Regions from separate parts of the Homo sapiens genome. Here all the other regions are linked to region 2. The links come from fine-mapping of genetic effects on gene expression. A gene starts in region 2. Each other region holds a variant in brackets. All regions are shown on one strand. Distances are between the middles of the regions.

Region 1 (2,689 bases), 50 kb after region 2:
TGTCAGTATTACATTAAAAAGACTGCATGAACCATAGAGTTGACTGTGGATATTAAGTGGTCCAAACATGTTTTAACAACAAAAAGATCACATCTCAGGCCTGATTCCAGGGAGCCCTGGAGTAATGAAAAGACCTTTCATTATTGATCAGAAACACCCCTGAAAGGAAATGAAAATTGAAGGGATCAGATCAGTAATCCTAATTTATTTAGCAAGTTCTGATCTTCCTGAGAAACAAAAAAAATAATAGAAACTAAATTTATCTTGCACTGCCTCAAACCGGAAAGGAAAATACAGTCACCTGTTGTGACTCATTTGCAGTCTATTTTGTAATGGTTTCCAGATTCCTCTTCCAATTAAAAAGCAGGCCAGAAGAACCAAGATTGTTTAGTTAAGTCTGTTTGGTAATAGGTTTTAGACCGTAACTACATAAAGTCACTTACAATAAGGGATCAGAGTCTGTAAATGAATTCTGATTTTAAAAATTAGTGAGATTTCAGGGTTCTGCAATTAATTGGGTCATTTCATTTTGCTGAAGAAATAAAAAGGAATGAAGTGCAAAACAAATATTTAATGGTCATATAGCCACATGGTCATAATAATTTTATTATATTAGGATTTCTTTCTTTTCTCTCTCTCTTCTCTCTTTTTTTTTTTTTTGAGGTGGAGTCTCACTCTGTTGCCAGGCTGGAGTGCAGTGGCGTGATCTCAGCTCACTGCAACCTCTGCCTCCCGGGTTCAAGTGATTCTTGGGGTTTCATTTTTAAAAAGCTAATACATGAATCCCAGTCAGGAAGAAGAGGGACGATGAATAGTTAGGAAGCTGAAGGGGTAGAAAGAGGAGAATGGAGATGTAAAATGCAGAGACCGCAGCAGAGAGGAGTTGGCTTCCAAGGCTACCTTTTTTGAGGTGACTCAGAAATCTGGAAGTAGCCCTCCTCCCTTCCAGCCCCAAAGGGCTTCTTGAGGGGTTCCAACAAGCATTTGGAGTCTGGACAGCTATAAACTGTATATTACCCTGTCCCTGCCTTGCAACTAGGTGTATTCTATATCCATGATACAAGAGAAGCCCATTCTTCATTGACTGAGAGACTGCTAGGAGGTCAGGATTGTTCTTAGACCAGTTTGAACCCCAAAAACCTAAACTGAATTTGATTTAGATTCTTGAATAGGCTCCAGTTTCTGAAAGGATCACATAGCCTTGTAATCAGAATGCTGGTGGTTTCCGAAGCTGTTGCCTTTCTTTTTTAACCAAACTCACCACCTGCTTAAATTTAGCCTTCTTTTCTCTTTATGGAAGGGACAGTTATCTCCAAATGGGTCTAAACTCAAGTTACTTTCTAGCCCAGCAGTTGCTCAGCTGGTAGCTTGTGGGGATATATTTATTTAAGTGAAGTGTCTGCATCCTCTTCTGTTAATCAATTCTGGAAATCAACATCTCTCCACTCCTTCTTTTGGTGAGAGAAAAATCCACCCTCCCCAAATCTGCAAAGACTCTGCATAGCACACATGCTTCAACTTTTGTCCTCTTCTCACAGATGGCATGATCCATTTCCTGTTGACTTGGTTTGTCTCACGCACGTGCCATTAGATCTAATGACTAACGCATGCCAC[C/T]TTCTGAAGAGAACCTAAATAACCTTCCTGTAATTCTAGTTCTTTTGTAATAGACCCAAATCTGGTTTCTCTTCCTGGTCTACTTAAGGCAAATGCTATGGAGGTAATTTTTCTATCCCCTTGCCAAAGGATGTGAGGGTAAGGTTAGCGACCCACTGCTGCACTGCACTTCTGCTTCAGAAGCAAAAGAAAGACAATAGCCAAAGGGTTACTGGAGAAGCATAATAAATAGTTTTCACTTATTACAGCTTTTATGGTCCAATTCTCCAAGGTGCATAAAACCAGCACATTGAGATAGGGCAAATGAGTCTAAGTGTTATATCGTGGCTTTCTTGTCTCATAGTACACCCCGGAGAATACCTGAAACCCTGCGTTAGCCAACACCAAGGTTAAAAATACCTCTCTCTCCTCTGGCTGGGGGAGAGAGCAGGTTTCACCTTGTCGAGGGACAGTGAAGGCCATAGCCGCACTTTCTTGACTAGGACATTCTCTTGCTGGAGACCTGCCTAAATACAAGTATAGCCCACCATAGAATTTCTCCCAGAAACATGGTCGGCTCCGTCTTGAGCTGTCATCATAACTTCAGAAGAGTTGGGAAGGGCTTTCTTCTAGCAAAAACTACCTCCTCTACCTTAATAGCTAGAGAGTCAGCCACCTGAAATTCTTTTCCTTTTTTCCTTTAAAAAAAAAAAAAAAAGACAGACTCTTGCTATATTGCCCAGGGTGGTCTCGAACTCCTGCTTTCAAGTGATCTTCCCGCCTAGTCCTTCCAAAGTCCTGGGATTACAGATGTGAGCCACCCTACTTGGCCAGCCACCTGAAATTCTATCAGTGACAGATTCCTTTAGCTGAAGTCATGTTCAAATGTAATCCTCCCAAGAATGGTAACATTATACATCAATGCATTAAACAAAACAACCTGTGCTTATTGAAAAAGTCATATGTGCACACGGTAAAACAAAATTCAAATAGTACAAAAGGGTATATAGCTGGGCACAGTGACTCATGCCTGTAATCCCAGCAGTTGGGGAGGCTGAGGCAGGAGGATCACTTGAAGCTAGGAGTTCAAGACCAG
Region 2 (2,689 bases):
ATCTATTTATAACCTGGAGGTACAGGCAAGAAGAAGAAAAAGATTTGAGCAACACAAACTAACCCCTTCGTACAAAAACGCCTCTGGAAACAGAGGCACCTCCGCAGGGCTGGTATGGAAATTCTTCCACCTGGTGCCTGGGCGCAGCCAACTCTTCCAGTCCCCTGCGCCTCCCGAGCCCTCCGCCCGCCCCGCCGGGCCTCACCTGTGTAATTACCCTCTGGCTAGCCTTCCTGCGGCAACCGCGGCCAAGTTTACACAGAAACCCGAGTCACCTCCTCCCGCCCAGCCCCCAGCCCCAAACGAACTCTTCCGGGCTGTCCCGGGGCGACCCTACCAACTCCCAACCAGTCCTCCGCGGCCGGCTCCGGGGGAGGTGTTTACAGCCTGTGCTCGCCCCCTGCTCTGCACAACCCCTTCCGTCCCGCCGCGGCCCCGGATTTCCTTCAGCCCCGCCGCACCGAGCGCCGCGTCTGCCCCTCTCCCCGCTGGAGAGTTGTTTTCATGGCGCTCTCGAGCTGGCCGGCTCCTCCGCTCCCTCGGCCGACCTCTGCTGACTAACTCGCTCTCCTCTCCCGTCCCAATCCCGCCTCCTCTTGGCACTTCTCTCCACCGCTCGCCCAGCAGCTCACATCACACTCCCACCTCAGACCCCAGGCTCCGAGAGGCGCAGGGCCAGCGGGAGCGGAGTATGGAGCGCAGCGGCCCCCGCGGCTGCCTCAGGTGACCGTGGGGACCCGAGACGACCAGCCCGAAGCGGCTCCCCGGCGCCCCTGTGGCCATCCACCCGCGCCTCAGCCACCGCCTCGCTCCGCTCCCTGCGCTCAGCCCCTCCGCCCTGCCTGACTGGCACCCGAGCCCCGCGACCCCCGGGCTTCCCCCGCCCGTAGCCCCGGCCGGCCCTCTTGCCCAGCGCCTCTGCCAGCTCCTTGCCCGCCCGCTGTCTCTAGCTCTGGCGCCCCGGCTCCCCGTCCCCCTCGCTCGGCCAGTTCTTTCTCTGCTGTTTGCCCTGTCAAAACACTGCCTAGGTCACGTGTCCCAACAACAGCCAACCCACCCCGGTCGTCACTTCCTCCCCGGCGGCCTCCGCGGCCCTGGCGCCCGGTTACTATGGCAATGCCGCCGCTCGCCCCGGGGCGCTAGTTTGGGGCCGGGTTTTCGGTGCAGGTGCCCGGCGGGTGCGAGGGCGCTGGAGATGGCGGCTGGGAGACACCAGCAGAGTCCCGGAAGCCCGAGACGTCCCAGGCACTTCGGTTGCGCTCCCAGCCGGCAGAGGCGCGCCTGGATTCTGAGACCAGGAATCGGAGCTGCGCTATTAGAGCGCAGGGTAACTGGGGAGATGTCATCCAAAGGCCTGCCCCAGACGTGGAGGATAATTATAGTCGTCGTCTCCTCCTCCTCCTCCTCCTCCTCCTCCTCCTCCTCCTCCCCCCTCCCCCTCCTTCCCCCCCTCCTCCTCCTCCTCCTCCTCCTCCCGGGATGCTGGCACAGAGTTGTGATCGAGCCCCAAGTGGATTGCAGCGCATAATGGAACCCGGGTTTAATGTGACCGGGACGGGGGGTGGGCAGCTATGCGGGTCAGGGAGTGGGAGAATTTAAGAACAGGAAGCCCACCCCCACCCTAGATTTTCCCAAATCACTAAGGATTTTAGTAGGATTCAGAACCCAAGCTTCCAAGACACTCGCTGTGCTAAAAATAATCTTCATAACTTCTAAAACACTGACTCATGGGCAGGAGGACACTTTGACAGCATGTTATTGTTGGGGAGCTGTAATTTTGTTGTTGTGCTATAGCAATGTGACATGATGGCATTTCATGTTGTGATGTTGTCGTCATTTAAACACAAACAGATGACAGGAATCTGCTGTACTTAAAAAAAAACCCAATCCTAACAAGCGCTGCAGCTATTAGCTACTCAGTCTATAGACAAAGTACATATGGGGCATGAGCCCAAATGGAGACAAGTAAAAATTTGCAAGGCTCTTTGGTTTCATTAGAAAAAGTTTTTTTTTTAGATATAATTTTGCATAAAAGGATCACAGGAAAGTATTAGGACAAGTCTAAGGGGATTTTTTTTATTTGTGCCCTTCTGTTTTAAAATTTTTTTTACAATGAGTCTATTATTTTCACATCAGAAGAGTTTTATAAACTGCAAGATTGGCAGTTCCATTTTTTTGGCCTCAGGTAAAGTTCTTATGAAAAAGGCATGAAATATTTAAAAAGTAACATTTTCTAGTGCTTAGATATGTACAGTAAAATAACATGTACAACTGAAATTGTTAACCTTAACTCCACGATTGTATCTAATCAGAGCGGAGAGAACATTCAGGAGGGTAACATTTCATTTTCTCTGAAATGTTCTGGCATCATGACGATGAAACTGACAAATGGAAACAGTTCTTTAATCTATAAAATGCTACAAATGTTAAATCCCAGTGGATTTGACTTTGATATTATTGAATACTGTATTATGTAGTTTTTAAAAAATGAACTGAAGTTTTACTTGTTCTACAAGCACTTGGTAATGGGAGACAGAACAGTTACAGATAAGCCAAAAACCTAAATTTAGCACAACAGCTGGGACCAAATAACAGCTATTGTAAAAGGCTTACTGGGTGAACAGGCAGCAAAATCTGGTTTAGCTTCTTTCTTCCTCTATCTAATGCAAAAGAGGTAAAAAGACCAGGA
Region 3 (2,689 bases), 160 kb after region 2:
CTGTTTTCCTTTTTTTTCTCTCTCTCTCTTTTCCCTCTGACTCTCCCTTCTTTTATCTCCCTTTCTTTCTCACTCCCTTCCTTCCTTCCAATACCATTTTATTTGATTCGAACATATTTTACCTACTATGTGAAAAAGGGCAAATAAACCACAGATAAATAGTTAAAATTCAAAGTAATCTGTGCTATTGTAAATTTAAATGCAAAGTGCTTTAAGTTGTATAACTGAGAGTAACTGACTTTGAGTTAAGGTTAGGGGAAATGGTTCACAGAGGATGTGAAATTTCGTGTGGGTCTTGAAGGATATCTAGGAGTTCTCCAAGTGTGTAATGGTGGGAAGAGGTACCCATATGTGTGATGGAGCCAGTGAATCTGGAGAGCAGCAGGAAGTCTAGAGTGACAGACAGGTGAAGGGGTGGGTAAGATAGGAGGGAGAGGTCAAACTCATGTTCTGGAGTTTTGTAAGTGTAAACCGAGGAGTTTAGAATGTTATTCTGGTCAAAAGCTTCCAATGATGTTGCAAACTTTCTAAACAGTTTGCAACATCAGAGCTGAATATACATGATTAGTTCTGAATTTTAGTTAAAATCTCAACATTGCCATCCCCATCAAGCTACCAATGACTTTCTTCACACAATTGGAAAAAACTACTTTAAAGTTCATATGGAACCAAAAAAGAGCCCACTTTGCCAAGTCAATCCTAAGCCAAAAGAACAAAGCTGGAGGCATCATGCTACCTGACTTCAAACTATACTACAAGGCTACAGTAACCAAAACAGCATGGTACTGGTACCAAAACAGAGATATAGACCAATGGAACAGAACACAACCCTCAGAAATAATACCACAGCTCTACAACCATCTGGTCTTTGAAAAACCTGACAAAAACAAGAAATGGGGAAAGGATTCCCTATTTAACAAATGGTGCTGGGAAAACTGGTGAGCCATATGTAGAAAACTGAAACTGGATCCCTTCCTTACACCTTATACAAAAATTAATTCAAGATGGATTAAAAACTTTTTATTTTATTTTATTTTATTTTGAGACGGAGTCTCGCTCAGTCGCCCAGGCTGGAGTGCAGTGGCG[C/T]GATCTCGGCTTGCTGCAAGCTCCACCTCCTGGGTTCACGCCATTCTCCTGCCTCAGCCTCCCTAGTAGCTGGGACTATAGGCGCCCGCCACTACACCCGGCTAATTTCTTTTTTTTGGATTTTTAGTAGAGACGGGGTTTCACCGTGTTAGCCAGGATGGTCTCGATCTCCTGACCTCGTGATCCGCCCGTCTCAGCCTCCCAAAGTGCTGGGATTACAGGTGTGAGGCACTGCGCCTGGCAAGATGGATTAAAAACTTAAATGTTAGACCTAAAACTATAAAAACCCTAGAAGAAAACCTAGGCAATACCATTCAGGACATAGGCATAGGCAAGGACTTTATGTCTAAAACACCAAAAGCAATGGCAACAAAAGCCAAAATTGACAAATGGGATATAATTAAATGAAAGAGCTTCTGCACAGCAAAAGAAACTACCATCAGCATGAACAGGCAGCCTACAGAATGGGAGAAAATTTTTGCAATCTACTCATCTGACAAAGGCTAATATCCAGAATCTACAAAGGACTCAAACAAATTTACAAGAAAAAAACAAACAACCCCATCAAAAAGTGGGCAAAGGATATGAACAGACACTTCTCAAAAGAAGACATTTGTGCAGCCAACAGACACATGAAAAAATGCTCATCATCACTGGCCATCAGAGAAATGCAAATCAAAACCACAATGAGATACCATCTTACACCAGTTAGAATGGCAATCATTAAAAAGTCAGGAAACAACAGGTGCTGGAGAGGATGTGGAGAAATAGGAACACTTTTACACTGTTGGTGGGACTGTAAACTAGTTCAACCATTGTGGAAGACACTGTGGTAATTCCTCAAGGATCTAAAACTAGAAATACTAATTGACCCAGCCATCGCATTACTGGGTATATACCCAAAGGATTAGAAATCATGCTGCTATGAAGACACATGCACACGTATGTTTATTGCAGCACTATTCACAATAGCAAAGACTTGGAACCAACCCAAATGTCCATCAATGATAGACTGGATTAAGAAAATGTGGCACATATATACCATGGAATACTATGCAGCCATAAAAAATGATGAGTTCATGTCCTTTGCAGTGACATGGGTGAAACTGGAAACCATCATTCTCAGCAAACTATCACAAGGACAAAAAAACCAAGCACCGCATGTTCTCACTCACAGGTGGGAATTGAACAATGAGAACACCTGGACACAGGAAGGGGAACATCACTCACCGGGGCCTGTCATGGGGTGGGGGGAGGGGGGAGGGAAAGCATTAGGAGATATACCTAATGTGAATGACGAGTTAATGGGTGCAGCACACCCACATGGCACATGTATACATATGTAACAAACCCGCAAGTTGTGCACATGTACCCTAGAACTTAAAGTATAATTAAAAAAACTCAACATTATAGTGTAAAAATAGACAACAAAAATAATGGTAATAGCTAACATTTGTTGTGTATTTGCTATGTGTTAGAGATCCTGTGTTAGCCATTTTATATTCATCAATGCATTTGATTCTTTCCATCACATCACAGTGTGGGAGTGTTATGGGCTGAATTATGTCCACTTCAAATTCATTGGTTGAAGTCTGAACCCCTA
Region 4 (2,689 bases), 23 kb before region 2:
CAGGATTCAAACATAATGTCTTCCTAAATCTAATATATGTGCCCTTAACCACTAGTATCCTTTCCCTAACAATTTCTTACATATGTTACTTACTATTTGCCGTAAGGCAAATATGGCATTACACAAAAATAAAGTTTAAATACAGAAATCTCATATAAGCATTTCCCATGTATTAGTCATTCAATAACCACAACGACAGCCTCATTATACCTCAAAATTACCATTAATACACTGCTTGTAACATGGAAAAATAGGATTTGACTGCAAACAGATAGCTGTTTTGTAGCTGTAGTGTGATCACAAAGACAACGATAAAAGGTTCAATCTGTAAAACTTCACTACTTCATGATCACAGATCACCTAATCCAGAGAAAGTGAAAGGAGGTCGAAAAGGACACTGAACTAGGGACCATCGATGTGGGTTCTGGCCCAAATCCTAGCTCTGATCAGCTTTTTGATCTTAAGCACTTCTTTGAAATTCCTCATTCTTTGTCTGCAATGTTGGTATGTTGTAAGGATAAAATAGGACAGGATAAAATTATTTTCAAAGTAGCAATGTGCTACACATATAGGATATTTCTATTCCTAATAGTCTTTGAGGGATAGGGGATAATGTTCAGATATGGTAGTGTAAACACGCTTGTACAAAATTCAACCTCATGATTGGAAAGACCCCTTAAAGCAGCAAGACATAAAGGAGGAAAGCCACAAATTCAAGCTCTTTCCACTTATAGGATGTGTTACCAAATTATTTAACCTGTCTGAATCTATTTCTTTATTTGAAAAGTGGGAATAATCATTTCTCTAAGTGCTACAAACCACCTAGGTCAGTACTCCGCTCTTAATTTGAAGTTTCCTCTTTCCCTTTGCAGACATCAGGTCTACATGATGTGACCATATGTCTGCATACATACACACACACACACACAAATAACAGCAATACATTAGCATACATTAGTTGTATACTGTATTAATAACAATGGGAATGAGACAACTCTTGATCAAAGAAAGATTTCTGTGAAGCTGATTTTTTTTTAAGTTTTTAAATAATGTCACA[T/C]TGAACAACACATTTAACAGCTGAATAATTTGTAATGAAGACTAAGCAATAGTTAAAATATAACATTATTAACAGTTGTGGAAAATACAGAAATTTATCATATCATTAAACCAGTTTTTATTAAAAAACAAAATGTGATGTTAGGTCAGTTCAGGGATAAATTAAGCCATACATTATATTGACTTCCACTTACATGAGATTCCTAGCAATCATATTTGCTGCAATGATTACCCACTGACTTGCATTCATTATAACAAGGTACAAATAAACCAAATGGCCAAACAGCAACCAAAATATACTGTTTTAAGAGTTAAACACATTCTTAAAATTAAAATGCTAAAAAGTACCTAAGAGACTTAATTGGGACTCTCATATTTCAAAAGATTTTGGGTTATGATGACCTAGATTAGTTCCAGGAGCAGTAGCTTGTTTACCAAATCTAAGATCTTGGAAAGAAGAAAATGTTCTAGCCTGTTTTTGGCATCATTCATACTACATTGTTTAAAATGAGCTAGAATGGGGGTTATTTATAAGCTAAGCTACTGGACAAACACTTCATCTAATAATATCTTGTATACACATAAGTCAGATTTAATAAGAATCAAGATCAGGTATTAAGAATTCACTTTTAATATCCTATATACTTTGTCTTTGTAAATTAGTATCACCACTATTACATAAAATGTGTGCAGAGGTGCATACGGGTTTTTCTTTATCCATACTTCTTTTAAAGATATATTCTGGGATGTTGTTAATCTCCTGCTATTACAAAGAATGCTATGTTTGATTCAATCTGAAATTGAAAACCAATCACACATTTTTTATTATAATAAAATAACATTTTATGAAAAGTTTTTCCATGAAGACAATGGATCCCATATTTACTTGTCCCTTTGACAACTGCAACTTTGTGAAATAATATTTTGTAGATGAAGAAACTGAATCATAGAAATTAAGGTAGCCGTTGGGTTACCCTGTAAGAATCACCAACTCTAGGTTTAATTCCAAGTGCTGTTTTTTTTTCCACAATTACCTATCACTGATACATGTCATTACCTCTGCTAATAGAGACAAACAGTCATACAAATGACTGATTCTGCAGTTTAAATTCTGGAGAATGTTAACAGAAATCTGGTAGAGTGACACAGTTGTATGTGTATTTAGCCAATCTTGTGTAGGTGTAAGGAGACTCAATCATTAAGTCCCCAAAGCTTTAATACTGTTTGCTTTGCATTTAACATTTTTTAAAATTTGCTTATTTGAAACTATTTCACATTGGTTTGCTTCCAAGTGATATGACTAAACTCTTTTGGCTACCTCAAACTCTAGCATGTCTAAAACTGAATTAGTTTTCCTCTGAATAAGAGTCACCATTATTATCAGTGGCATCCTCCCAATTCCCTAAGCTAACAAACTTCGGAGAGAACATACTCATTGACTGTGTGTTTAGTAAGTGCCTGGCACAACCACTTCACTCAGATTATGTCATTCTAATAAAGTTATAAAATGGTGTAAAATACTATTACTATCCCAGTTTTAATCAATAAAATGGAAACTCAGAAAAGTCAGCAACTTTAGCTTACACAGAGAAGGTAACAAAATCAAATCTTGAACACTTTTAGTTCTAAGTGC

What was found.
Region 1: its variant is fine-mapped to the expression of ATOSA in whole blood (TOPMed, PIP above 0.99).
Region 3: its variant is fine-mapped to the expression of ATOSA in anterior cingulate cortex (GTEx, PIP 0.99).
Region 4: its variant is fine-mapped to the expression of ATOSA in blood mononuclear cells (TOPMed, PIP above 0.99).

The regions. Positions count from the first base shown.
Region 1 is chr15:52,728,777-52,731,465 of GRCh38, forward strand. No RefSeq gene overlaps it. Among named protein-coding and RNA genes, the nearest start is that of ATOSA, 51 kb to the left of the region's middle. The variant C/T (reference allele first, on the strand shown) is at 1,615.
Region 2 is chr15:52,678,367-52,681,055 of GRCh38, forward strand. It overlaps ATOSA (atos homolog A), which reads right to left and starts at 1,022. Exons shown (of 13, transcript NM_001385016.1): 1 at 462-1,022. It overlaps LOC105370821 (a long non-coding RNA gene), which reads left to right and starts at 1,239. Exons shown (of 4, transcript XR_932255.4): 1 at 1,239-1,327. RefSeq lists an enhancer at 1-57 and a silencer at 638-957.
Region 3 is chr15:52,841,421-52,844,109 of GRCh38, forward strand. The region is part of intron 1 of LOC107983981 (a long non-coding RNA gene); the gene reads left to right. Among named protein-coding and RNA genes, the nearest start is that of ONECUT1, 52 kb to the left of the region's middle. The variant C/T (reference allele first, on the strand shown) is at 1,087.
Region 4 is chr15:52,655,103-52,657,791 of GRCh38, forward strand. The region is part of intron 2 of ATOSA (atos homolog A); the gene reads right to left. Among named protein-coding and RNA genes, the nearest start is that of ATOSA, 23 kb to the right of the region's middle. The variant T/C (reference allele first, on the strand shown) is at 1,058.